Linked DNA regions of Homo sapiens: regions 2 and 3 are each linked to region 1. Evidence: fine-mapped expression QTL. A gene starts in region 1. Each other region holds a variant in brackets. All regions are shown on one strand. Distances are between the middles of the regions.

Evidence for each region. PIP is the estimated chance that this variant, and not a neighbour inherited with it, causes the effect.
Region 2: its variant is fine-mapped to the expression of VGLL3 in lung (TOPMed, PIP above 0.99).
Region 3: its variant is fine-mapped to the expression of VGLL3 in lung (TOPMed, PIP above 0.99).

The regions. Positions count from the first base shown.
Region 1 is chr3:86,986,501-86,994,906 of GRCh38, reverse strand. It overlaps VGLL3 (vestigial like family member 3), which reads left to right and starts at 3,758. Exons shown (of 4, transcript NM_016206.4): 1 at 3,758-4,289. The coding sequence starts at 4,164.
Region 2 is chr3:86,933,374-86,941,779 of GRCh38, reverse strand. VGLL3 (vestigial like family member 3) reads left to right here. Exons shown (of 4, transcript NM_016206.4): 4 at 1-3,807. Among named protein-coding and RNA genes, the nearest start is that of VGLL3, 54 kb to the left of the region's middle. The variant G/A (reference allele first, on the strand shown) is at 4,147.
Region 3 is chr3:86,906,132-86,914,537 of GRCh38, reverse strand. LOC105377196 (a long non-coding RNA gene) reads left to right here. Exons shown (of 6, transcript XR_001740802.2): 3 at 5,480-5,552; 4 at 5,928-6,157; 5 at 8,384-8,406. Among named protein-coding and RNA genes, the nearest start is that of VGLL3, 81 kb to the left of the region's middle. The variant T/C (reference allele first, on the strand shown) is at 4,597.

The sequences.
Region 1 (8,406 bases):
TTGTCATAGAATAAATATTTGCACTAGAGGCCATAGGGAGCACGGAAGATGCAGCAATGAGGGGTATGGACATGTTGAATCAAGTTCTGGCTTTATTTTATCATTTGGAAAATATATATAGAATGTCTTCGAAGTGTTAGATATGGAGATGAACAAGATATAAATAACCTCTGCCAAAGTCTAGCTAAAAAGACAGATATTAAACTCATAATTGTACAAAAAAATCAACTACAGATAAAAGTTATTTGAAAAAAGTTGGAGGCATTAAACATTTGAACAGGAGGTTTGGCATTGAGAAGTGGCTGTCCTCACAAATTTGCTCTGTGTCCTAATTCAGTCACTTTATATTCTAGGTCCTATTTTTTTTTAACATCATAAGGATTTTCTCAATCTAACATACAGCAGAAAGCCTAAGACAGAGTTTGAAATCATATTCTACATTATAGCTTCACTGATTTTATATGTGCTCAGATCCCACCAAGAATTTGTAAGTTATTCTAATAGTTTTTGTTTCTCCTCCTATTATATACTTTACTTATTCAAAGAATATTTACTAAGCCAGATATCATATGATTGAAATTTAGTGAAATTTAGAGATAAAAGTCACAGTCTCTCCTCTCAAGCAGCCATGGTCATATTGGGGAAACAAGCAAATAAGCAACTTCAAATCAAGTAGTTAATTATTAGTATGATGGGAGCGTATTCTTAAAAGAACAAGAGCTGGTGAAAATAGGAGCATTAAAGCTGATCCTCATCGGATGTTTTGGAAGACAATTACATGAAGAGCAAGAAGGAGTTAACAAGTGAAGAGGGTGAGGGATGTGTTGGTGCAAATGCTCTGCTCATATGTAAAATGACATGCTGGTAGAAAGTACCACGGCTTCTTCGCAGAATGCAGATCTCAATTCAGATAGCTGGTAAACATTTGCAGGAGGTAGTGACATGGGCAGGGATCAGAATCTGAAGGTTAAAGAGTTGTTTCTACAGACTGCGGGATGTGACTGTGAAATTTTTAAAAGAAGAATGAATCATCATTGCACAGTTGGATTTGCAGTGGCTGGGTCATTAAAGAGTAGTATAAACTATGAAGAACAGGAAGAAGTCTCGCCTTGGGACCCGGAAATCACTAAGAGTCTCTTGCAGGAGTCTGAGTGAGAGATGCCGAGCAAACTAACGATTATAGCAACAGAGATAAGGAGAGAGTCAGTAGAAATGGAAAATTTGGGGTCAACTTGACTCCAAGACCAGGTGTGGGGACTGTGAGGAGAAGGAAGGAGTGCCAGAAGATTCCCACATTTCTAGCTGGGACAACTGGTAGTGGGGGAGTTTCAGTAGAGATGAAGATTAAAAAAGAGGATCAAACTGGGGACATGAGACAATCAGTACTATTAGGATTGAGGTCCTTATGTAACACCTATGTGGAGCTACCTAGAAAGAACTGAATAGATAAATCTGGAACACAGGAAGGGATCTGATCAAAGGAGGTCAATTTGGGAAAAGACAATAATAAACGTTTAAAGTAAATTATGAAACATATTATTGCTGGAAATACTCTTGTACTACAAAGAGCACAATTTAAAGTCCAAGAACTGTGCAAACCCTTAATAAATATGTTTTTAATATTCAGTGATAAAATGATTGAATAAAAGCTGTTGCGGCGTAGCAAAAAGTTCCTATCCAATTTTTATAGTGTCAGTGTGTGTGTGTATGCCTGTGTGTTTATACATGTGTATGTATCTGTGTACCTAGACATACACACAGACACTTATGTAAACATTAACGATATATGATAACTGTATATCTGCATTAGTGTGCTAGGGCTGTCATAAATACCACAAACTAGGTGGCCTAAAAAAACAAATTAAGCTGGGCATACCGTGGCTCACGCCTGTAATCCCAGTACTTTGGGAGGCCGAGGTGGGCGGATCACCTGAAGTCAGGAGTTCAAGATCATCCTGGCCAACATGGTGAAACCCTGTCTCTACAAAAGTACAAAAATTAGCCGGGCATGATGGCGGGTGCCTGTAATCCCAGCTACTCGGGAGGCTGGGGCGGAAGAATCACTTGAACCGGGAGGAGGTTGCAGTGAGCCGAGATCGTGACATTGCACTCCAGCCTGGGCAACAGAGCGATACTCCGTCTCAAAAAAAAAAAAAAAAAAAAAAAGTTAATTTTTTCATAGTTCTGGAGGATAGAAGCACAAGATAAGGTGTGGTCAGTGTTGGTTTCAAGGTGAGACCTTTCTTCTTGGCTTGTAGGTAACTCACTATGACTTCAGATGGTCTTTCCTCTTTGACAGAGCAGAGAGACAGGGAGTGGGGTTTGGGGGAGACATAGATATCTCTGGCGTGTTTTCTCTTCTTATAAGGAACCTAGTCCTATTAGATTAGGGCCCAACCTTTTAAATCTCATTTAACCTTATCACCTCCTTATATGTCCTGTCTTCAAATACAGCCATATTGTGGGTTAGGGCTTCAATATATACATTTTTGGGAAGACATAATTCAAACTATAAAAACATTAGTGCATTTGACTTTCAAACTGACTTTTTCTCTGAGAAAAGATAGACTGTAAAAATGAGAGATTGCTGTGAGTCATAAAAGAGGATGCCTACGTATAAGGAGAGATATGTTTGCTGAATCTCAGAGCTAGAGTTTGCTCATTTATAAAATGAGGCCCAGTGCGGTGCCTCATGCCTGTTATCCCAGCACTTTGGGAGACCGAGGCAGAAGGATCACTTGAGGCCAGGAGTTGGAGACCAGCCTAGGTAACATAGCAAGACCCCTTCTCTATAAAAAAAAAAATTAAAAAAATTACCTGGGCGTGGTAATGCACGCCTGTAGTCCCAGCTACTCCAGAGGCTGAGATGGGAGGATCTCTTGAGCGTGGGGGTGGTAGCTGCAGTGAGCTGTGCTCATGTCACTGTACTCTAGCTTGGGCGGCAGAAGGAAACCCTATCTCAAAATAAATAAAATAATGTGAGTATAATTATTTCTACTGATTATGTCAGAATACAAGTATATTCTCACAGACGTTTTTTTCCCCATTTTGGAGAGGGTCAGATCCAATTGCAAAGAGATAAACCTTTATTAGCGAATGGGCTTAATCAACTACCCTTTATTGCTCTGTGAAAACCAGGCTGTAAAAGCCAGAAATGGTGGACGTCTCACAGCAGTGTCATACCATGAAGATGTAAACTTAAAGCAGAGATTGCTTGTGGAAAACTGTGTTGCATTCTTGGCATGTGGGCACTTGCAGAGATGTTAACTTTCACTTATGATTATTTTAATGTAGGAGCTAATCCCCGTGTATTCTGCGCCTGCTCTGTTTTACCCCTTTGTACACTCGGCTTTTGTTTGGTCCCAGCCTCTGAGTTGGTGTTCCCTGTAAAATCTCCTTGGAGTAGGGAAGCCCTCGCCCTGGCGGCCAGGTGACAGAGACAGGGTGGGAACCTGCCGAGCCTTGAGGGCGCGGAGCCTCTGCATACCATTCCCCTCCCACCACCATCCCATGCTGGGAGGCGGAGAGGGCTGCAAACTTCGCTCCAATCCGCAGCCAGCCTTCCCCGGGGTCCCCCTGCAGGGTGACCCGCCCGCTGCAAAGCGAGTTGGAGAAACTTTGCAAAGTTCCGCGTCAGAGCCTGGGGAGGCAAAGTGCTCCCCCTTCTCCCCGGCGTTCCCCCTCCCTCTGCCCCCGCCTCCCTGTCCTCGCACAGCCGGGAGCACCCGTGATAGGACGAGCCCCGGGCGTGCATTGTGTATATGCAAACCGGAGCTGGGCTCCCCACGGCTGCCCGACCCGGGCCTGGGCTGTGGCTGTGACTGGCGCTGCCGTGGGCGCCGCAGCCCTCGCGGGAGCCGGACGCGGTAATGCCCCAGCGGCGCAGCGGGCGGCTGCGTCCCTGAGCCGCTATATAAGCGCGGCAGGGAACATCCGGAGGGGCTGAAGATGAAGGTGCCCGCGCATGGGCCCCCGCTGATTGCCAGTCCCTCCCGACCCCGCGCCCCGCGCGGAGCCCGAGGCCGCCGAGGACCCGCCTTCGCCGCAGTAGCAGCTGGAGCAGCGACAGAGGCGGCAGCTGCGGCGGCGGCGGCGCCCGCGCCCCTCGCGCCAGCGCGTAGAGCGGCGGCGGCAGCTCGGGGGCCGCCACTGCCCCGGCTGCCATGAGTTGTGCGGAGGTGATGTATCACCCCCAGCCTTATGGAGCGTCCCAGTATCTGCCCAACCCCATGGCAGCGACAACCTGCCCCACAGCCTACTATCAGCCGGCGCCCCAACCTGGCCAGCAGGTGAGTCACCGGACGGGCAGCCTGCTGGGGGCGGGGGCGAAGGGCATCGAGAGTATCGGTCTGGGGCTCGGCGACGTCCCGCCGGCACGCGTGGCGCAGAGGATGCTCTGGGATCTGCGGGAGCGTCCTTGAGCAGAAAGCCATCCCGAGAGAGCCGGGAAGGGAGAGCAGCAGGGTGGACGGGTGGGTGAGGCATGACCTAGCTGGGGGCTTCATTGAGCTGTGGTCACCGGAGCTCAGAGGCTGCTCCTCCTAGGCACCCTAGCTCTTAGGACTCAGTTCTCTGAAGCTCACCAAGGGCATCTATCTTAGGACCATGTGAGTAAACTTCCTTTCAACCAACTATTTTGTTTATTTGGAAAGATGGAATGTTTCAGGGTTTTATTGATGAGGAAGATGAAGTGCGCTGACAGAGGTAGGGGAAGCTACCTGGAGAGTGAGTTCACGAAATGATCTGGGACTTTCATGGGGGAACACTGGTCTAGCATAATGTCTATCGGGTGTTACTAGAACTTCTCCACAGAATCTTTCTCCCGGTGACTGTGACTTAGAGGACAGGGATGGATTCCAAGGTTCTTCATTCATTTTTTAATTCCAGCAAAGCACAGAGTTTGTACGTGTTCAGTCTGTTGACAGTGGGTCCCTCGGCCAAAAGGTTACCTTGAATCTCTGGATGCTGAGTCTCCACTCTTCCAAGAGTAACTGAAGATGTCCATAATAAGGGGTCGTGAACTGAGGAGATGATATAGTTACTTTAGAAGGAACAGTAGAGTTCTGGGGAATTTGGCACGAGGCGCCCTTGGACATTACTCTCTGGATACAACGGAGAGTGTGCCAAGGCTTAGTTAGTGCTACATTAAAATAAAAAATGTATGTGGCAAGGGCTGTACCAAAATAGAGTCCACCTCAGACTATGGGAATTAGGGTGGGCGGATTTGGAGAAACTTAAAAAAAATAACTAGATTTGGTTAGGAAATTACCATCCATAGAATATATTGATTTATTTCTTTTTACTTTCTTAGGTACCACATGTTTTATTGCAAACCTTCTTAGGTTTGGGCTGTTAATTAATCTGACATTTTACTTTCTGTATTTCCTCTACTTCTGTCTCTTTGCTAGAATTACAGTGCTACTCTTTAGAAAGAAATCTAACTTTCCGTTTAGAATTTAGGAACTATGAAATTCAGCTAATTCTGGAAGGGTACATGCCCCAGATTCATCTGCTAAATAGTACCAGCTTAACCAGAACCAATTAGGGCAAAAGAGGAAGGAGCCCTACTTTCTTGCTATCCTCTTAAAAAAAATATTCAGCAGCACCAGCATTTCAAAGCATCTCTGATATTACAGAGGTCTTCAATTATCATTTGGAATGTGGATGAGCAACAAACTAAAACTTCTCTACATGTTCAGAAAGATACTTTCCTCCTTTATAAAATAACAAACTAGTAGAAGTTGTTTCAAATATGGCTTTATTTTTTAGGGTTGTGAAATTAATGAATCTGTGGTGTGGAGTTAATACTGTAACACTTTTTTTTGAGCTAGAAAATAACATTCGGTATCAGAGAAAATGGCAAATTGCCAATCATAAAAGTTTTCAATAAGAAATGACTCCAGTACTTTATATAATGTTTGCAATAGCCCTGAGACTCGGTCCCCAAATTCATTTCTTTTGCTAAAACCGTCAACATACTGAAGACAACAATTTTAAAAAGTAAAAAATAAAATAAAATAAAAATCAGGAAAACTCTGACCATTGAGCTTCTTAAAAAGAAAACAATTTATCTACATTGATTGGTTACATAATGATCAACTTCTATATTTTGGGCTTTTGTAGACATTGCTTAACTAGATGTTAGGCTGAGTGAGCCATAGGGAGGTGCTTGGAAATTTTCATGTTGCTTTTTCTTCTTTTTCTTCTCCTTCTTCTTCTTCTTTTTTTTTTTTTTTTTTTTTTTTTTTTTTTTTTTTTTTTTTTTTGGTCAAGTAAAGAAACTGTTTGACCATAACTGGCTAACGAAATAAAAAAAAAAAGACTTGACAGTGTAACTACTGTTCTTTTAGTGTCAGAAGTTTATTTTGATGACCTACATTTTCTATTGGAAAAGAGAGTAAATCAGGAAATTCTTATCAGGCTGACAGCATTTTTAGACTATGCAATGCGTGGGTGAAGTGGGACTAATATTGACTTGGCCCTAATGCAGTCATCCGAGAATACATATTTTGGTTGTTTTTGCATTCCATAAGGTTTTATCATTATTATCCATGAAGATTGTTTTCTCCGTACATGGGAAGTGACCCCTAATAGCATCTTGCCTGGGAGACAAAAGTAAGGGCTACAACTCCTACTGAATTTGAAAAATTGATTTTTGGAGAAGGAAAAAATGGAAAAGGAGCGAAGAAAAGTAACAGCAATCAAGAAATTTTAATAGCCATTTAAAAAATGCTAGAAAAGACAGCATTAAAGTTTTATATTACTTCTGTATTCAATTGTAGTAGTGTATCTGTCAACTAATTTCCCCCTCAAACTGTATGGCTCTGAAGTCCTTATTAATTACTGTATCAAAATGATTCCTTATGATGGATTTTAAACACAGGTATATTTTTCCTCTTAACAAATGATCATATAACATTGAGAATTATTTTGGAAATAACAGAACTTCATTATCCAGGCATGTGTACTCTCACCTGTTTTCCGATAAGCACAAATGTGCACCTGAAATTTAAGTTTAGGTTTTTGTTGAACATATTGCATGTTGTAGGTGGGTAATAAGTGAATGTCATTTTAAAAACCTAGTTAACTGTATATATATATTAGCTTGCACTGCAGTGTGTTACTTAGGTATACAGTGGGCTAAAAAGTCAAAGTAAGCTAAAATATGTGCAAAGTATACATTTTATTGTCCCTGACATTAATTACTAGAAATTGCATGGCTGGGTATAAATCCTACAGTGGGGTTTATAGAGCCAAAATTACTGAGGGATGCTGGGTGACCTGTTTCGCATGCCCACCATCTCTTTCTGGCTTTAATATGTCAGTCTCTAACAACTCCTCAGGAGAACCCTTGACTCAGTCTCTCAGCACATGCTGTCAAAGGTTTCAGAATTATGCAGTTTATAGATGAGACAGAGAACAGTCACTGGTTTTCTAATTGTGCATGGGGATTTTTAACAATCACACTTTGGGCTTCATATAAAATGGAGTATATTTACTCTGTCCTCTTCCAGGGTAACAGCTGGATGAATCTGCATGCATGCTTTCACTTGAAAAAATTAAGTGCCCTTGGAGGGAGAACTTCAGTTATAAGTTTTGTAAGGTGTTTTTTCAAACTCTCTCTGGACTCTGCTACGTTGGTTGAGTCATAAAATTGTTCTGCAATTCGGTTTGTCAGAGAAAAAAGCCCTGGAAAAACATAACTTCAACTCTTCTTTTTACAAGTGAGAAAATGGATTTTTATAGGGCTGAAATGCCTAGCTAAAGATTTCAAAGCTGGTGACAAAATTAGGATCACCAGATCCCCCTTTCTCCGGTGTAGCATCTTTGTACAATGACATGAAATTTCCTAAAGCTTTTTAAATTTTTTTAATGTTTTGCTATTGCACAATAGGCTTATTTTTGTCTTTAGGTCCCCAATCAATTTTTTTTCTAATGAAGATTAATATGCAATAGATTCTTTGGCGTTGGAGTGCGAGATTCTTTCCAAGTCCTTGGTAGTGTACTTTTTTAAGTTTAGGCATTCCAAAGGCCGTTAGCAAGCATTTGGATTATGCTAATGACTTATGCTATCCATGTTGCACCCTTGTTGATGAAACAGTATATCCAGTTAGCAAATGAATATTTATTTATCTAAAATAAAATACAGGAAGTGGTATTAGCAGTTAAGTGTCTCATCTATTATTGCTATTCCAACATAAGTTTAGATTCATTAAGAGAAAAGAATACAGTTATAACCAAAGTAGTTTCAATTCACAGACAACTTATTTGAGGCAGAGGATCTATTTTTCTTGCAACTGTAAGTAAGGACTTAAGTAGATTTATAAAAATTTATACAGGACTTCTTTGAGAAAGAACAGCCCCTATAACTTCACACTACACAAATTAACTTCACTGTAGAGACTT
Region 2 (8,406 bases), 53 kb after region 1:
GCTCTCTGGGAATTGCACCATGTACACTTTTACAACCTACAGAAATCGTCATTATTGTTAAAGTATCTCAACTTTTCTATTTCTTTTATTGTCTATTGTGCTTTTTTGTTTAAAAATACTTTTATAGTTTTAAAGTATTGGTCAAAGTAGTATTCTCTTGAAGTTCTAGTCAATTTAATTTGATCCAATAAGTTTTTCTGAATCTCCTTTTTAAGTTCCAAGAAATTCTATTATAAATAAGTGTACTTTTACCAATTCCATTGTATAAGCAAACAGACACCTTTTAGAAAAGGATAAGTAATCATCAATTTGTTTTTTTAAAAAAAAAAACAATTTCTAGACTACTAAATTTGGCATAAGAATAATTCTTTTAAAATGCAACATACTTTAATTAGTTTTTTTGGTATATGCATAAGATGTGAACTTTCCTATTGATATCACTTTATATTAATAGAGATGTACATTTCTTTCTATGCCGTGGCTAGAGCAAAAGTTAATAATGATTATTTACACAATTGATTTAATTTCTTAGGATATGTATAATATTGGATATTATATCTGATTTAAAAATACTATTCCATACATTTTTTTTTTCAGGAGATAAAACATAGGGAAAGGTTTTCATGTGAATTCTTTGTATCACTTTGAAGTACATATATTTAAAGGGAAGATGGATACAATTTGTTTTTATTATATAAATCTAGGTAAGGTGAAATGCTTTTGTCAACAAAAATACAGTGTAGTGAATTTTATATTTGTCACTTGATTAGGTAAACTGAAAACTAACAATAGAAATATTATTTTACTGCATTGAAATACCATGAACTTTCAGACTTGTTAGTTCTACAAGAAGTTGTGCTACCTTAATTTTGTGTTTCCAGAAATAAAAATTAACCTTAGTTATGCTGTCATTTTTAACTAATAAAAAAAGTATAATTCATAAAACTTTTGGCTTTATAAGATAATTATAAAATTATATATTTTTTTCTGTTTTTGTGGGGTTGGGAAAACATTTTCTTATTTCTATTCACTCTTCAAATGCAGGTCTCATAATATGTGTCAATGATATAAGATGATGGAAGACTTTGTAATAAAAACATATGTCATTATCTTCAATTTGTTCAATAAATAATTTAATGTGAATTGAATGTTTGTATTTTAACATAGCATTTGGATTTGGTCTGCATTTCTTGAGAATTTAAAGCTCTTTTTGTTTCCTCCTTATTCAATTAAGCATCTTATAAATATTTTGGAAATTACAACATCTTAGGTGTTATTAATTAAGAAGTTAATTTCTAGGGCCAAGAAGTCTATATGTTACAGCAAGGAATAGATTATAAAATACATGTTTATAATGGAAAAGAAAATGAAATGGGGTATATTAATTACATAACAGCAAGAGTCTTGAGAATTTTATAATACAATGCTTCTAAGGATATTGGTTGACCAAGGTGTATTTTATTGTTTTTACATTTGTTGACAGGGACTCTGCCATAAGTAGTATGAAAAAACAAACAAAAACTTTTCTACGATTCATTAACATTGAAAAGAGAATTCCAAGACCTTGTATTCTGAAGAAAGCTAGAGTTTCTCTAAGTGGGCCTTCAATTTTCTTATTACACGTATCTTTAATGTGAAAGTACTAAAGTCTGAAAATCAGCATTTAAATAATAGACTTTCCAGCATTACAGATGAAATAATTTGGCGCAGGCTTTTTAACTGTCTACCATATTTAGAATGTGGTGTCAAAATGAGATTTTTAGAACTGCTGTAAAATATTACTACATTACTACAACGATAACGGCCTAAAACAACACAAATTTATTATCTTACAGCTCTGTCAGTCAGACATTCAGCAAAGATCTTAGTCTTGGTGGGCTACAGAATGTAGGAGGCATTTCCTGGATGCTTCCAAGAGAGAATCTTGCTGTTCCCTGCTTCTAGAGTCCTTTGCTTAGTTTCCTTCCATCTTCAAATCCAGCAACCTGGTCAAGACCTTCTCACATGACATCACTGACTTCCTCTTCTTCCTCTCCCTTACATATTTAAGGACTCATGTGATTACAATAGCTGCATCTGTGTAATCCAGAATAATCTCTTCATCTCAAGGTTTTTGTTCTGTTTTGTTTTTTTGTTTTGTTTTGTTTTGTTTTGTTTTGATGGAGTCTTGCTCTGTCGTCAGGCTGGAGTGCAGTGGCGCGATCTCGGCTCACTCCAACCTCCACCTCCCGGGTTCAAAGGATTCCCCTGCCTCAGCCTCTCGAGTAGCTGGGACTACAGATGCGTGCTACCACACAAGGCTAATATTTTGTATTTTAGTAGAGACGGGATTTCACCATGTTGGCCAGGATGGTCTCCGTCTCCTGACCTCGTGATCTGCCTGCCTTGGCCTCCCAAAGTGTTGGGATTACAGGCATAAGCCATTGCGCCATGCTCAAGGTTCTTAATTACATCTTTAAAGGCCCTTTTTCCATGTACAGTAACATATTCAATGGTTCTGGGGATTAGGACTTGGAGCCATTATTCTACCTACAACAATTAGTATTGGACTTCCATCATTTTCTATCACTCTTGTAATCGAGAAGGACTATTTCACTGGGAGTAGCAAGTCATAATGTTTGCGTTGGCATTTGTGTGGGGGTTTATCTTCATTCATTAAATAATTGCATGTAAAGAAAATTCCTGTCACTATTTCAAATGTTTCATGTAGTTATTATAGTGCTTCAGAATCCAAAGGGTTATGTGTTACTTATGTAAGATGAGCAGTCTAGGGGGTGGAGAACAGGTCATCTAGTGCAGATTCTTCCTAGCTGAAGTGTGTTTTCTCTGGGGACAACCAAGTAGGATTTAATTGTTTTGCTTCCTTTTTTGGGAACTTAGACCCATCTTGCGATGTCCTAAGTCTCCAAGCATCTTATTTGACCTGCTTATACACATTTGACTAAATAGCTAAATATGACCACATTGACGTGGTAAAGCTTTAACACTTTTGTCCAGATTGAATCACTCCATCTGCTATCAGTTAAGCAGTGGAAAACTGTTATGGAAAAGCAAACATGTTTTGATAGATTTAATGTGTAAAGAAGGTATCCATACTCTGGAATGCTGCTGATCAATAAATGAGCTGCAAGACTTTGTTCGAAACAACACTCAAGCACAACTGTTTTACTTTCCATACCAAGTTTGGCTGTGACTGAATGAAGAACATCAGCATTGATCTTTGCTTTGCACTTGTACAAGAGACTATTTGCAGAGAGCCAAATATAGCAACAGAGGATTTAATATCTTGCCAAAAAATACAAAATCTGTTCCCCTTTAAGCATGACACTCTATCCTTTCTTGTGGATCTTGCTAAAAGGAAAATATAGCTTTAAACTCCCCTATTCCTTCTGTTGAAAGCTTAAGAATCTTTTTCAAATGAGCTATGTATGGTTTTGTGGTATTTTATGTTTCCAAAAGAAAATGGCTACATGAAAAATCTGTCCAGTGTTATCATTTTTCTTACAAAAAATACTTCTAGTTATGGTTGTATTAATTAATTTGATTGTGATAATGATTACACAATGTTTACCTATATCAAATCATCATATCGTATACCTTAAATATATATAACTTTTATGTGTCAATTATAACTCAGTAAGTCTGGGAAAATATCGTTAAGTCAAAGATTAGAGTCAACAGAAATAAAGAAAAATCATACTTTGATAACTTCAGGACTAATCAAGGATCAATGGGTGACATGATATCATGCTATGTGCCATTTTGTGTTAAACAAATTACACCAACAATAAAAAAAATTGGCTTCAATCAACGAGGTTCTTTCTTTGTCTTAGAACATGGGTGCTTTGTTCTGAGTGTTGTCTGATGGGTAGGCAGATTAGTTTAGATTTCTCTATAATGTGGTTAATGACAATAGCTCTTCTGCTCAGTTTATGATGCATATAAAGAATTTTGAAAGTAGTCTTACAAACTTCACCATGAAGTTTCTGCAGTGACAGCTTTACCAGACATCTCCGTGTGGGATTTTAAAACAAACACAAGGCTGTTTGGAAATACTTGGTATATATAAATATGCAAAATATGCTGAACAGCGCTAACAGCTGTAGGGTGAACTCCCTCATCCTTGAGCAGAATATTTTGGTGGCA[G/A]TGTGGTTATTTTTTCCATCTTTGCTTTTAATTCCCGCCCCCCCCCCCGCTCTTTTCTCCACCCACTCACCCATCTACAATCCACTCCAAAAGCACAAATTTAACACCCTTCCCCCTACTTCCACACTGCTTCCAAGAAAATCATTTTAGTAGATTCCCACTGGAAAAGGTGGGTGGTGGCTTGATGGAATGTTTCTGAGTTACACGATGTTGTAAAGCCTGAGCTTCGGGGAACTTGCTTGGACTTGATCTGACATCAGGCTCACACACAGCCCAGACACTCTGCAGGCCAGATTCCATTAAGGCTTATCATTGCAAGAAGAGGAAAAGTCCTGTTGTGAGTGGCCCTCCAGCCATGATGATTCCAAAGATGGCAAAATAATCATTTTAAGTGTGTGCTATCAGGTTCTGTAACATCAAGGCACTCATCCTTTTATGAAAATAAGCATATGCCCTATTTTCATATGCCTTTCCTCAGAGCCCGAAAATGGAGGGAGGACACAAGAAAAGTTAAAATTCAAAGTTTCTTCTTATGGTATCTTGAAGAATTGAAGGTTTGAAGGAAAGAAGGTACCAAATATGAAGAGAGAAGGCCCACATCCTAGGACCATTTCCACTGGTGATTTGTTGATATTATTTAATCTTATATTTCTGTTTATCTGTCCAAGGAAGATCAAGTGAAATAAATCTAAACTGATTTGGGAAAAATAAAGTGCTATATAAATACAAAGAAATAGGAACCAATATTTAATGAAAGTCATTGATCTATCATGAGTATTACATGAATTCACCTCAAGTGATTCTCACAAATAGCAATATGCAGATAGCATTATTTGAGAAGCTGTTAGCAATATAAAAATGGGGGTTGAGTTTCAGCAATGCTACTTAGAAGCTGTATATTTTGGATAATTTTCTTCACCTCTTTAAGTCACAGTGTGGTCATCTGTATGTAAAATGAAGATTTTTTTTTTTTTTTTTTTTTTGAGCGGGAGTCTAGCTCTGTCACCCAGGCTAGAGTGCAGTGGCTGGATCTCGGCTCACCGCAACTTCTGCCTCCTGAATTCAAGGGATTCTCCTGCCTCAGCCTCCCAAGTAGCTGGGATTACAGGTGCCTGCCACCATGCCCAGCTAATTTTTGTATTTCTAGTAGAGACTGGGTTTCACTGGCCAGACTCGTCTCGAACTCCTGACCTTGTGATCTGCCTGCCTTAGCCTCCCAAAGTGCTGGGACTACAAGCGTGAGCCACTGAGCCCAGCCATCAAATGAAGATATTAAAGGAAACTACTTCACAGAGTTGTTACTAGAATTAAGTATTTAATTTACTTATCACTAAGTAAATATTGTTGTTGCTCTTTAATTAATCTAACTTTTCAGTAATTGAGGAAATCATCAGTTAAGTTCATTCTGAAGGGCACTGATATAATTTGGCCCTGAGCACCCACTCAAATTTCATCTTGTAGCTCCTATAATTACCAAGAATTGTGGAAGGGACCCAGTGCTGTTCTTGTGATAGTGAATGAGTCTCACAAGATCTGATAGTTTTACAAAGGGGAGTTTCCTTGCACAAGCTATCTCTTTGTATGCTGCCATCCATGTAATATGTAACTTGCTCTTCCTTGCCTTCCACCATGATTGTGAGGCCTCCCCAATCATGTGGAACTGTAAGTTCATTAAACCTCTTTCTTTTGTAAATTGCCCAGTCTCGGGTATGAAATCAGCAGCACGAAAATGGGCTAATACAGTAAATTGGTACCAGTAGAGTGGGGGCACTGCTGAAAAGATACCCAATAATGTGGAAGCAACTTTGGAAATGGGTAACAGGCAGAGGTTGGAACAGTTTGGAGGGGTCAGAAGAAGACAGGAAAATATGGGAAAGTTTGGAACTTCCTAGAGATTTGTTGACTAGCTTTGATCAAAAGGCTGATAGTGATATGGACAATGAAATCCAAGACGAGATGGTCTCAGATGGAGAGGAGGAACTTGTTGGGTACTGGAGCAAAGGTGACTCTTGTTATGTCTCAGCAAAAAGACGAGGAATTTTGCCCTGCCCTAGAGATCTGTGGAACTTTGACCTTGAGAGAGATGATTTAGAGTATCTGGTGGAATAAATTTCTAAGCAGCAAAGCATTCAAGAGGTTACTTGTGTGCTGTTAAAGGCATTCCGTTTTATTAGGGAAGCAGAGCATAAAAGTTCAGAAAATTTGCAGCCTGACAATGTGATAGAAAAGGAAAATCAATTTTCTGAGGCGAAATTCAAGCCGGCTGCAGAAATTTGCATAAATACTAAGGAGCTGAAAGTTAATCCCCAAGCCAATGGGGAAAATGTCTCCAGGGCATATCAGAGGTCTTCATGGCAGTCCCTCCCATCTCAGGAGGCTTAGGGGGAAAACATGGTTTTGTGGGCTGGGCCCAGGGTCCCTGTGCTGTGTGCAGCCTAAGGTCTTGGTGCATCCCAGCTGCTCTAGTGGTGGCTGAAAGGGCCCAACATAGAGGCTGGGCTGTGGCTTAAACCTTGGCAGCTTCCACATGATGTTGAGCCTGTGAGTGCACAGAAGTCAAGAACTGACGGTTGGGTAACTCCACCAGGGGAAAAAACCACGACCTGCCAAGATGCTTGCTGAAGGCAAAGGGAATACAGAATGGGTAGCAGAACAAGGTAGTCATCAATATCAGCTACGACCATGTGACCAGCTGCAGAAATGGGGACTGTAATTGTCATGAGTATTTCCTTCTCCTTTTGTTAGAAATATGTTTGTGCAAGTATACACTTGCACTAAGAAAATATCTTCATTTTATTCCCTTTTTCCTTTATCATGTGACGTAAGATTTAATGACTTCATGTCAGCATTTATGTGTGTTAACTTAATGTAATAGCATTTGGATTAGGGATTGTTGCATTTCTGGTTGTATGAAGGAGAGTTGTAGTATGTTAGGTGTAATTATGACCTTATTATTGTCTTTATTTGAAGTTATGTATGATTTCAGGAGATGTGTATGGGTTCAATTCGACAAGGGGTGGACTTGTGATGTTAATACTGAGTGTCAACTTGAATGGATTGAAAAATGCAAAGTATTGATCCTGGGTGTGTCTGTGAGGTGTTGCCAAAGGAGATTAACATTTGAGTCTGTGTGTTGGGATATATATATATATATAGATATATAGATATAGATATAGATATAGATATATAGATATATAAAATCTCCTATTAGTTCTTCTCCTGTAGATAACTCTGACTAATATAGGCACCCAGCTGTGAGTGACAGAGCCAGGATCCAAACCCAGATTTAGCCAAACAGGAAACTCAGAACTCCATACCACCCCCAAATTTTTGCTATTGTCACATCTGAATGTATTTGCTGTGAGAAGATTTTATAATCTCATAGCCAACTGGGATAAAAAGAGACAGTAGGAGAAGCTAAAAATGGCCAGGAAGGATAGGATACTTTGGAAGAGTGAGGGAGAGTAATGTGGCTTTCATGAATGAGAGCTATGAGAGACTTTGGAATTGTAGAACATTATTTGCCACTTGGGGATACAGAATAAATTCATCTGACATATACTTCTGATCTCAAGGAATATAATTATTTCTTTACTCAGCTTATCCTCAAATCTTATACCGGATTGGAAGAATTATAGCTTCTTGATGTTGACATCTTATTTTTCATCTGAAACTGTCAACTCCCCAATCTCTTTAGGTGTTCAGCACTTGTTTTGTCTGCTAGAAAAAAAATCAAAATTACATTTTAGTCCTGAAAAATTTTTTTAATGAAGTACCCTCATTTCTCACACTTAGAGTATGTGTTTGGGCAAGACTTTAACAAACATGAATAGAATAAATCATTTCAAAACACTTGTCTTAATCTGCAGCTTCTGTGTCAGAAAGCTGAGAGGCTATAAGATTCTATCATCCTCCTACTCCCCACTTGCCAGTTGTTTGACATGGGAAATGTACCCTTCCTCATTAGTAAAAAGGAGATGGTAATACCTACATTATAGGATAGATATGCAGATTAGATGGGATAATGTGTAAGTGCCTGTCAAGTACTAGACTTCCCAGGAAGCTTAGAATTTTATGCATCAATTAGTACTGGCTCAAATTTACTAGGCATCTATAACCAGGAACTTTACAAAAGTCACCTCTTGGAATCCTCAGAACAACTTTTCAAGGCGAGTTTCCTTATTTTCACATTAGAGATGAGAAACTGAGTTGCAGGGATTTTAAATAATATGACACAGCAGAATCAGGATTAAAAGTCCA
Region 3 (8,406 bases), 80 kb after region 1:
ACTAAGCAAAAGCTAAAGGTTCAGGTTTGAAGAAACCCTTACTGCATTTCCTAGAAGCAAAATTTCCCCTATTGGGGTTTAAGACCTAGAATCTACAGAGTCTAAACGTGCAGCAGTGAGAAACACAAGTTCCACAGTGGGTCATTTGTGGGGACGGGGGGATGGTGAGTGTGGTCGATGCTTCTTTCAACATTTCATTCTCTCACCTGTGTATTCTAGTACTAGGAACAAGGCATCATATAATAGTTATTTCTTAAATATGAACATCACGTCACAAAAGGCAGTATCCTAACCAAATAAGGTGCCATCCCCACAGTGACAACTAGGCTGAACCTTTATGAGGCCATTCTTACATTCTATCAGATTGTCTATGATCTTGTGATTACACACTTTCAACTTGGATATAGCATGACTTTTGATTTACTATCATGACTGGGAGTGGGTGGGAAATCTCAGGTTTGTTCTTGGTATTTCACCCTAATGTCTCTTATTCTACAAATCAGAAATCTAATGTAAGGGTTCTATCAGATCCTAAATTTGATTAAAATTCAGAGTCTTGAGAAATAACTACAGGGTGATTCCATGGAAAAATTAAACTCATTATAAGCTAGATTTAAAGCCGGAAATCTACTTACCGTCTGGTCATAATACACAAGGAATTAGAGTTACTTTAATTTCAGTATGAAATAAGACTCAGTTTTCAACATCTCTTTGAAAGAGCTTGATTATGCGTTTTCCTTAATGTGCGGTTACTCTGGTACAAGACCATAGGTACTTTTGAGGACAGACTGATATAACATTTATGATATATGCTTTTGGTGGCATAAAAGGGTCTTTCCTCAGGAGTATCTATCCTCATTTTGGTCAATAGATCCTATCTGAGGCTATCTCAGATCTGAAAACTGGGCCAGGAGTAGTAAATTTTTACTGCAGAATCTGATAGAACTCTTGGCCTACTACCTTTTGAGTTTTTTCTTGGTTTTATACATGTCAAGCAACATCTTTGATGGCTGCACATTTATTTCACTTCCAGATATACACTACAGTCTTTTAACCATTGCCAGAGTTCTCTGTAGGTTAAGGAACCCTTTTTTTGCCATACAGATATGTCTGTGCCTTCTAGTATTGCTTCTGATGGCTAAGCGCCACCACTTTGTTTTCTGCTATTCCGGAACTCTGTCAGCTTCATTGACACTAGGGGCCTTTGTCTCATGGAACTGTCTCCTTCTGTCAATTCTGTACAGCAGAGGATAGCCATACTGCACTTCTCAAAAACGTTAGTGTTTTCTTCAATAATGCATGCCTCCTTGGATGCAGAAACCCAGGTATTCCTATCCCAGATATATCAGTCTCTTACTTCTTTTGTATCTTGGCCATGATTTTAGCTTAAAAGACGCACTAAGGCTGAACATTGTCTCCTTTGCAGTTTTGTTACCTTTACTATTAAATCTTGGGCTTGAATTTCAGCAAAGTCTACCCAGAGCTATAGAAAATAAAAGTCTTTTAAAAACTTCCATGAAGGTCTTCTGGCCAGTGTCATTCTGTTTCTCCAAGGTTTTCAATGCAAATTAAATGTCAACTAATTTTACAATATTTTAAATTATCATTGCCCCCACAAAGTTCAAGTATCAGAGCTACTGCATAAGCCAATGTTTCCCTCTTTTCTACCTTTTATCACATTTCAAAATAGGTAACAGTATCAGTAATTGTGATGCCAAACTAGTTTGAGAAAAGGACTTATGAAAAGGTAGTTTATTTGAAAGCATCCAAGAAACAGAAGCAGAGGGGTGGGGAAAGTAAACTAAGAAAAGAGGAAAGCTTGTTACCACTGAGAACAACTGGAATTCCATCTGCTATGGGCCTCAGTCCCTCTAAAGAACTATGTTGATGCAGGGCATGGTAGCTCATGCCTGCGATCCTAGCATTTTGGAAGGCTGATGGGGGTGAATTGCCTGAGCTCAGGAGTTCGAGACCAGTCTGGGAAACATGGTGAAGCCTTCTCTCTATTAAGATACAATTAGCCAGGCATGGGGCACATGCCTACAATCCCCACTACTTGGGAGACTGAGGCACAAAAATCACTTGAACCTGGGAGGTGGAGGTTCCAGTGAGCCAAGACTGGGCCACTGCACTCCAGCCTGGGTGACAGAGCAAGACTCTGCCTCCAATAACAAACAAATGAACAAACAAACAAAAAACTGTGTTGAATGTGTTGAATGCAGTTTTAAATAAAGAACGAGAGCCTAAGACCTTTCTACCAGTTCTTGAGATCTGCTAATTGAGTGATTTGTCCGTGGCTCGTCCCTGCATTTCTGGGCTGCTTTGTTGGTGTTATCTGAGTTGCAGTAATAGAAAAGCATAAAAAGCAGTGTTTCCCTTATATCCATGTTCTCATTTATATGCACAATATCAATTTTACAGGTGAAAAAAATTAGGTTTGGACACCGAAGTAATTTACTCAAGGTCACACAAAAAGTAAATGACAATGCAATTAAAGCTTACTAGAAATGAAGACTTTTTAGCCCAAATCCAGACCTAGTGAACCGGAATTTGCAATTTCACAGGAACCTTAGGTGTGACATATGCATATTTAGGTTTGCTATGCACTAGTTTAAAATGTTGTTCTTAAATGTCCATAGCCATAAATCAAACAAGAACATCTTATATATAACGGCAAGTTATCCAAAAGATACATTGCTCTTTCCAGTCAAACCAAAGAGATTCTCCCAGGTATTCTCTTTTTCAAACATTAATTAATTAAGAGTATTTGGCTGTAAGGAACACAATGCAATTTTTTTCAAGATGTTTGTGTGGATTAGGGAGGGACTGGAAGGTGATACAGAAGGTACACTATTGCCATAGGTAAGTAGCATGCCAGGTGGAGCTGAGGAGGCAATGGGCATAACTCAGGAACAACATATTTGAGAGTGTATTATTTTCCTATTGCTGCTGTAAGAAATTAGCACAAATTTGCTTAAAACAGCAGCACACATTTTTCCCATTGTTCTGTTGGTTCAGCTAGTTTCTCTGCTCTGGATTTCAGCTTTTTCACAAGGCTGAACTAAATATATTGGCAAACTGGTTTCTTATCAGGAGGTACCGGGAAGTGTCCACTTTTCTTTTCTTTTCTTTTTTCTTTTTTTTTTTTTTGAGACGGAGTCTCGCTCTATCGCCCAGACTGGAGGACAGTGGCACGATCTCGGCTCACTGAAAGCTCCGCCTCCCGGGTTCACGCCATTGTCCTGCCTCAGCCTCCGTAGTAGCTGGGACTACAGGCGCCCACCACCACGCCCAGCTAATTTTTTTTTTTTTTTTTTTTTTTGTATTTTTAGTAGAGATGGGGTTTCCCCGTGTTAGCCAGGTTGGCCTCGATCCCCTCGTGATCCGCCCGTCTCGGCCTCCCAAAGTGCTGGGATTACAGGCATGAGCCACCGCGCCCGGCCGAAGTGTCAACTTTCAAACTCACTTGGACTCTTCTAAGAATCCAGTTTTTTGCACTTGTGTTAGGGGGCTGTCGTTAACTCCCAGTGGCCGCTGAGGTCCTTGCCTGTGGATTCCTGCTTCTCAAAGCCAGCAAGGGCGTGTCAAATCTGCTCATGCTTGGAATCTCTCTGACTTTTCCTTGGGTCACATATCTCTTGCTTCACCCTCTGCCACACTTTTTTTTTTCCTGAAAGCCAAAAAGATTCTTTGCTTTAAGGGGTGATGTATTTAGATTGAGAGCCCACCTGGATAGTGGGTCCTCTCCCCTCCCGTTTTAGATTCTCAGGCAGTTCTTTATAGCAGTGTGAAAACGGACTAATACACAGTGCTTTGTGCTTGGAAAACGGCATGAAGGAGATGGAGGTAATGTGCGATGACTGAGAGAATTTGTAGAACAGCAAAAACCACTGAAATGCCATTCTTCAATAGAGGCACCAGGTAAGCCAGCAGCACACAACAAAAATAAAAACAATAATTTTGCATTTCCATTTTCTTGTTTTTTCCACTTGTTACAGGCTGTTAAAGTGGCAGTTGCCTGTTATAGTGCATATCACCTTAACTTACCCACCAATAAATCTCAACATAACCCAGCTATTTATGTTTTATAATTCTTGCCTATGGACAGAAACAAAATGTCATTCTCCAAAAGTGTCTTTTCAACAAATACATAGGGAGAAATTAGAACAAAGTATGGACCAAAAGCATTCAAAAATGACTCAAGCTCAGAACACATTTGAACCCACTGAAGAGTACAAGTTGTAGTTAAATTAATCTTACCACTAGGGGAGGGTTGACATTTTTCTTATACATATTCAGATGTCTCCTCTTCTATGTGAACCAGAAACCTTAGGAAGAAATAAGGCAATAGACACAAAGCATGACACATATGGTGGGCATTTGCTTGAACTCTCAGACTGGAAGATTTTTTTTTAGAAAAAAGAAAAAAATTCAGTAAATCCTCAAAAAATTTTTCATTCAGGTCCATACCTTGCTACAGGTTTTATTGCTTCAGTTCTAGTTAAGGATAGTGTTTATTTTTAGATTCATTTAATACCCAGAAACACAAGCAATGCTGAAGGTCACACTACAATCTGAAACTGTCTCAAATGTTTC[T/C]GGTTTGGCTTCACCAAAAATGCATTATGCCAAACACTTTTCGTCCTTAATTTTTAAACCCTTGTATGTTTTTAAACAAAATGCAATCCACATGTTTCTTACACATTTACACTTAACTCATCAAATTCCTCTTGTGTAAAGAGTGACTTGGAGACCAAAAAGGAATTGGAAATTATTTATTTGCCTTTGAAGCTTTTTTTGTTAGGAAAGGAACAGCGTGTTCTTTGGAATAATTCACATTAGACAACCAGGTGTTCAGTAAACCTGAAATATTTAAATAACATAATCTAGAAAAATCTACATTTGTCTGTTCATCTTGCTTCCCCTTGATTACTAATATAATGATAATATTCATCATTTTTCATCATCATCAGTCGTAATGCTATTATGTTATCATTTACTATTATTGTTGTTAGAAACTTAATAGGAACATTGGTGGTATTATAAGCATAAGTGCATTTTGTAACTTCTTCATTTATGAAGTACTTTTACCTCACTCATTCTTAAATACTTCAGTAGTGAAAGCCTTCCATGCTCTGTAGTATATACCTTTTTTCATTTCCTGTTGCGCCATCAGACTGAGAAAAAGAATTTGCCAATTGCTTTACGTCCTCCACAAAGCCTCTTTTTGGTGATATCAATCTCATTTCTACTTTTATGACTTTGAGTGTTCTCTTCATCTCCCTTAACTTTTTTCACCTTCTCTTTTCAGAGCCTTGTTTGTCTCTGTCTTTATAATTTGAATTAAGACTAATATCATCCTAAAATATTTCATTGCTGAGCTGAAAGTTCCTGTCATAACGCTTCCATTTATGTCTTCTTTATAACAGTGGATGCAACATTGTTTTAATTTGCTTATTCTCTGAATTATACATTGTTACAGATCTCCAGGTGTGCCTAAAGAATCTTGGGGATGTGTCTTCTGAAGCTAAAGAGACCCCTAAGCATCCTGCAAAGTAAGTTCTATGTCTTTTTTCTTCACGTCTTCTCATGGCGTTTACTTGCAATTGTTACAACATACAAAATCAGTCAATGTGCCTGCTTGGCACTGTATTTGTTATATGACATGTGCTATTTGTTTTCTCCATGAAAATATTACAATAAAATACTAGATAAAAGTAAATTTTGACCCTGTCTCCCTTTAAAATTAGATTACATGTTTTTAATTTAATATGTGAAGCTTAGGCCTTTATATATTATATATATATATTTATATATATATATTTTAAATTTAACTAAGGTCTTGAAAACATTGCACAGAAAAAGAAAAGTGGTGAATAAGATCTTAATCAAAATTACCATTTATCAAATATTGTTCATTCATAAAACAGATACCAGTGCACAACAATTTGGGACATAGCTTAAGCTTTCTGCTCGATGCTGGCGACAAAGAGGAGAAAGACAACTTCTACTCTCAGACAACTTAGTCTGCTTTAGGAGTTACAAACACAGACAATTTCAACACTGGATGAAAATGATGGGACAAAGGTAAAAGGAGAGAGGAATGCATCTCAGCTGAGTTTCAGAAAAAAAAAAAGTTTTGAAGAGATCTCAATGTTAGGTAAGCTGTGCAAGTTAATCAATATAACGTGCAGGCAAAACAGAAAGCCTTTATTTAATAGACATAGTTATTAGTTAATAACAATAACAATGAATCCTTCTAATGATTGTAGAGGCAAATACTGTTATTATCCTAATTTTACAAGTGAGAAAACGTAAGTTACATATAACATTTAAGTGAGGCCGGGTGTGGTGTCTCATGCCTGTAATCCTAACACTTTGGGAGGCCGAAGTGGGTGGATCACTTGAGGCCAGGGGTTTAAGACCAGCCTGGCTAACATAGTGAAACCCCGCCTCTACTAAAAATACAAAAATTAGTTGGGCATGGTGGTGCACACCTGTAGTCCCAGCTACTCGGGAGGCTGAGATGGGAGAATCTCTGGAACCTGCCCAACCAGGGCCACAGAACAAGAGTCTATCATCTCAGAAAAAAAAAAAAAAAAAAAAAAAGTTAAGTGAATTGCCCAAGGACAACAGCCAACAGCTGACACAGCTAAGAATTAACTATATGCAGTATTCACCCAGAGCCCCAGCTCTGAGCCCCTACATGAAGCTTCCAATATGGAACTTACCCACTCATGGAAAAGCAGCAAACAGTCAAGGAACAGCAAGTGTTTGGCATTGCCTCAGGGCAAGCTACATCTGAGATAATGTCAAGAGATGAATGAAGCTGAAAAAGTAAAGGGGAACAGTGTTATACAGAAAAACTAGGATTTTATCTTAAATGAGTCATTATAATCCTAGGAGTGACAGGGTGTTATTTCAATATTGGGAAGAAAATTCTGACAGGATCTTGGGATGTGGAATATAAAATGGCTAAATTGACGGTCAAAAGACCTGCTGAAAGGTATTTGTGGTAATACAAGTGAACAAGAGAGGAAATACGATTGGAGGGGAGCTGAAACTTACAAGTATTATTCTACAAGTGAATCTTTTAGGACTTGGTAAGCTGCTGGTGCTGGACAAAAGAAAGAAGGTAATGTCTGGAGTGATACCCATGAGTTTCTGATGACAGCAACATTGTCGATAGTAGCCAATCTCTGAAATAAGGAAGAAGAAAAAGAGACTCAGAAATTAGAAAATGCGGCCAGGCGCGGTGGCTCACGCCTGTAATCCCAGCACTTTGGGAAGCCAAGGCGGACGGATCACAAGGTCAAGAGATCAAAACCATCCTGGCCAACATGGTGAAACCCCATCTCTACTAAAAATACAAAAATTAGCCAGGCGTGGTGGTGGGCGCCTGTAGTCTCAGCTACTTGGGAGGCTGAGGCAGGAAAATTGCTTGAACCTGGGAGGCGGAGGCTGCAGTGAGCCGAGATGACGCCACTGCACTCCAGCGTGGTGACAGAGTGAGACTCCATCTCAAAAAAAAAAAAAAAAAAAAAAATTATAAAATGCTCACTCACAATACAATGTCAAGAGAGGAGTTTGAAACTTTGTATTACCTTTTTAAAAATGTGTATTTAATATATACATAAGCTCTGCTGAAAAAACATACAGCCACTAATTGTGAATGGCAAAATTTATTCAAATTTTTAATTTTCATCTGTATTTTCTAAATTTTCTGTAATGACTATGCATTAATTATATTTCTATTGAACTAAAATTAAATTTTATCAGAAGTCTTCTATTTTTATTTTTTCCATCAGCTTTATTGAGTTACAACTGACAAAAATTGAATTTTTTTAAGGTATACAACAAGATTACTGGAAATATTTTAAACAGTGATGTTACTTACTGTTGCCTGGTATAAACTTCCTGAAAAACAAAATACAGCACTTACCAAAAATAAATGCTTTATTAACTTTAGATCAGAAATTCTCTTCTTAGGAAGCTATTTAAGGTTTTACATAATTGCCATCTATTTGTCTATAAATATCTTTATTGTTATGACATTTATAATACTGAAAAATTGGCATCAACAATTGGGTTATTGAAATGAATTATAGGATGAATGTGTTAATATATATTACTCATTAGAATAGTTATTTACAAAAGTATTTAGTTACCAGAAAAAATATTTGTGATATATGGAAATGGCAGGGTATTTATTTTTCTTTCTTGTATGCATGTAGGACAAGGTGATACTGATTTTCTTCTTTGACTTTGTTTTGTACATTTTGAAATCTATGTAATGTACCTACATATTAGTTATAAAATATGTCAATAAAAAAACATTTCATTTGTAACCTGAGCAGTGTTATTGCCTTTTATTCATTTCAAACAGGAAGCCAACAAGGCCTGCAAAAG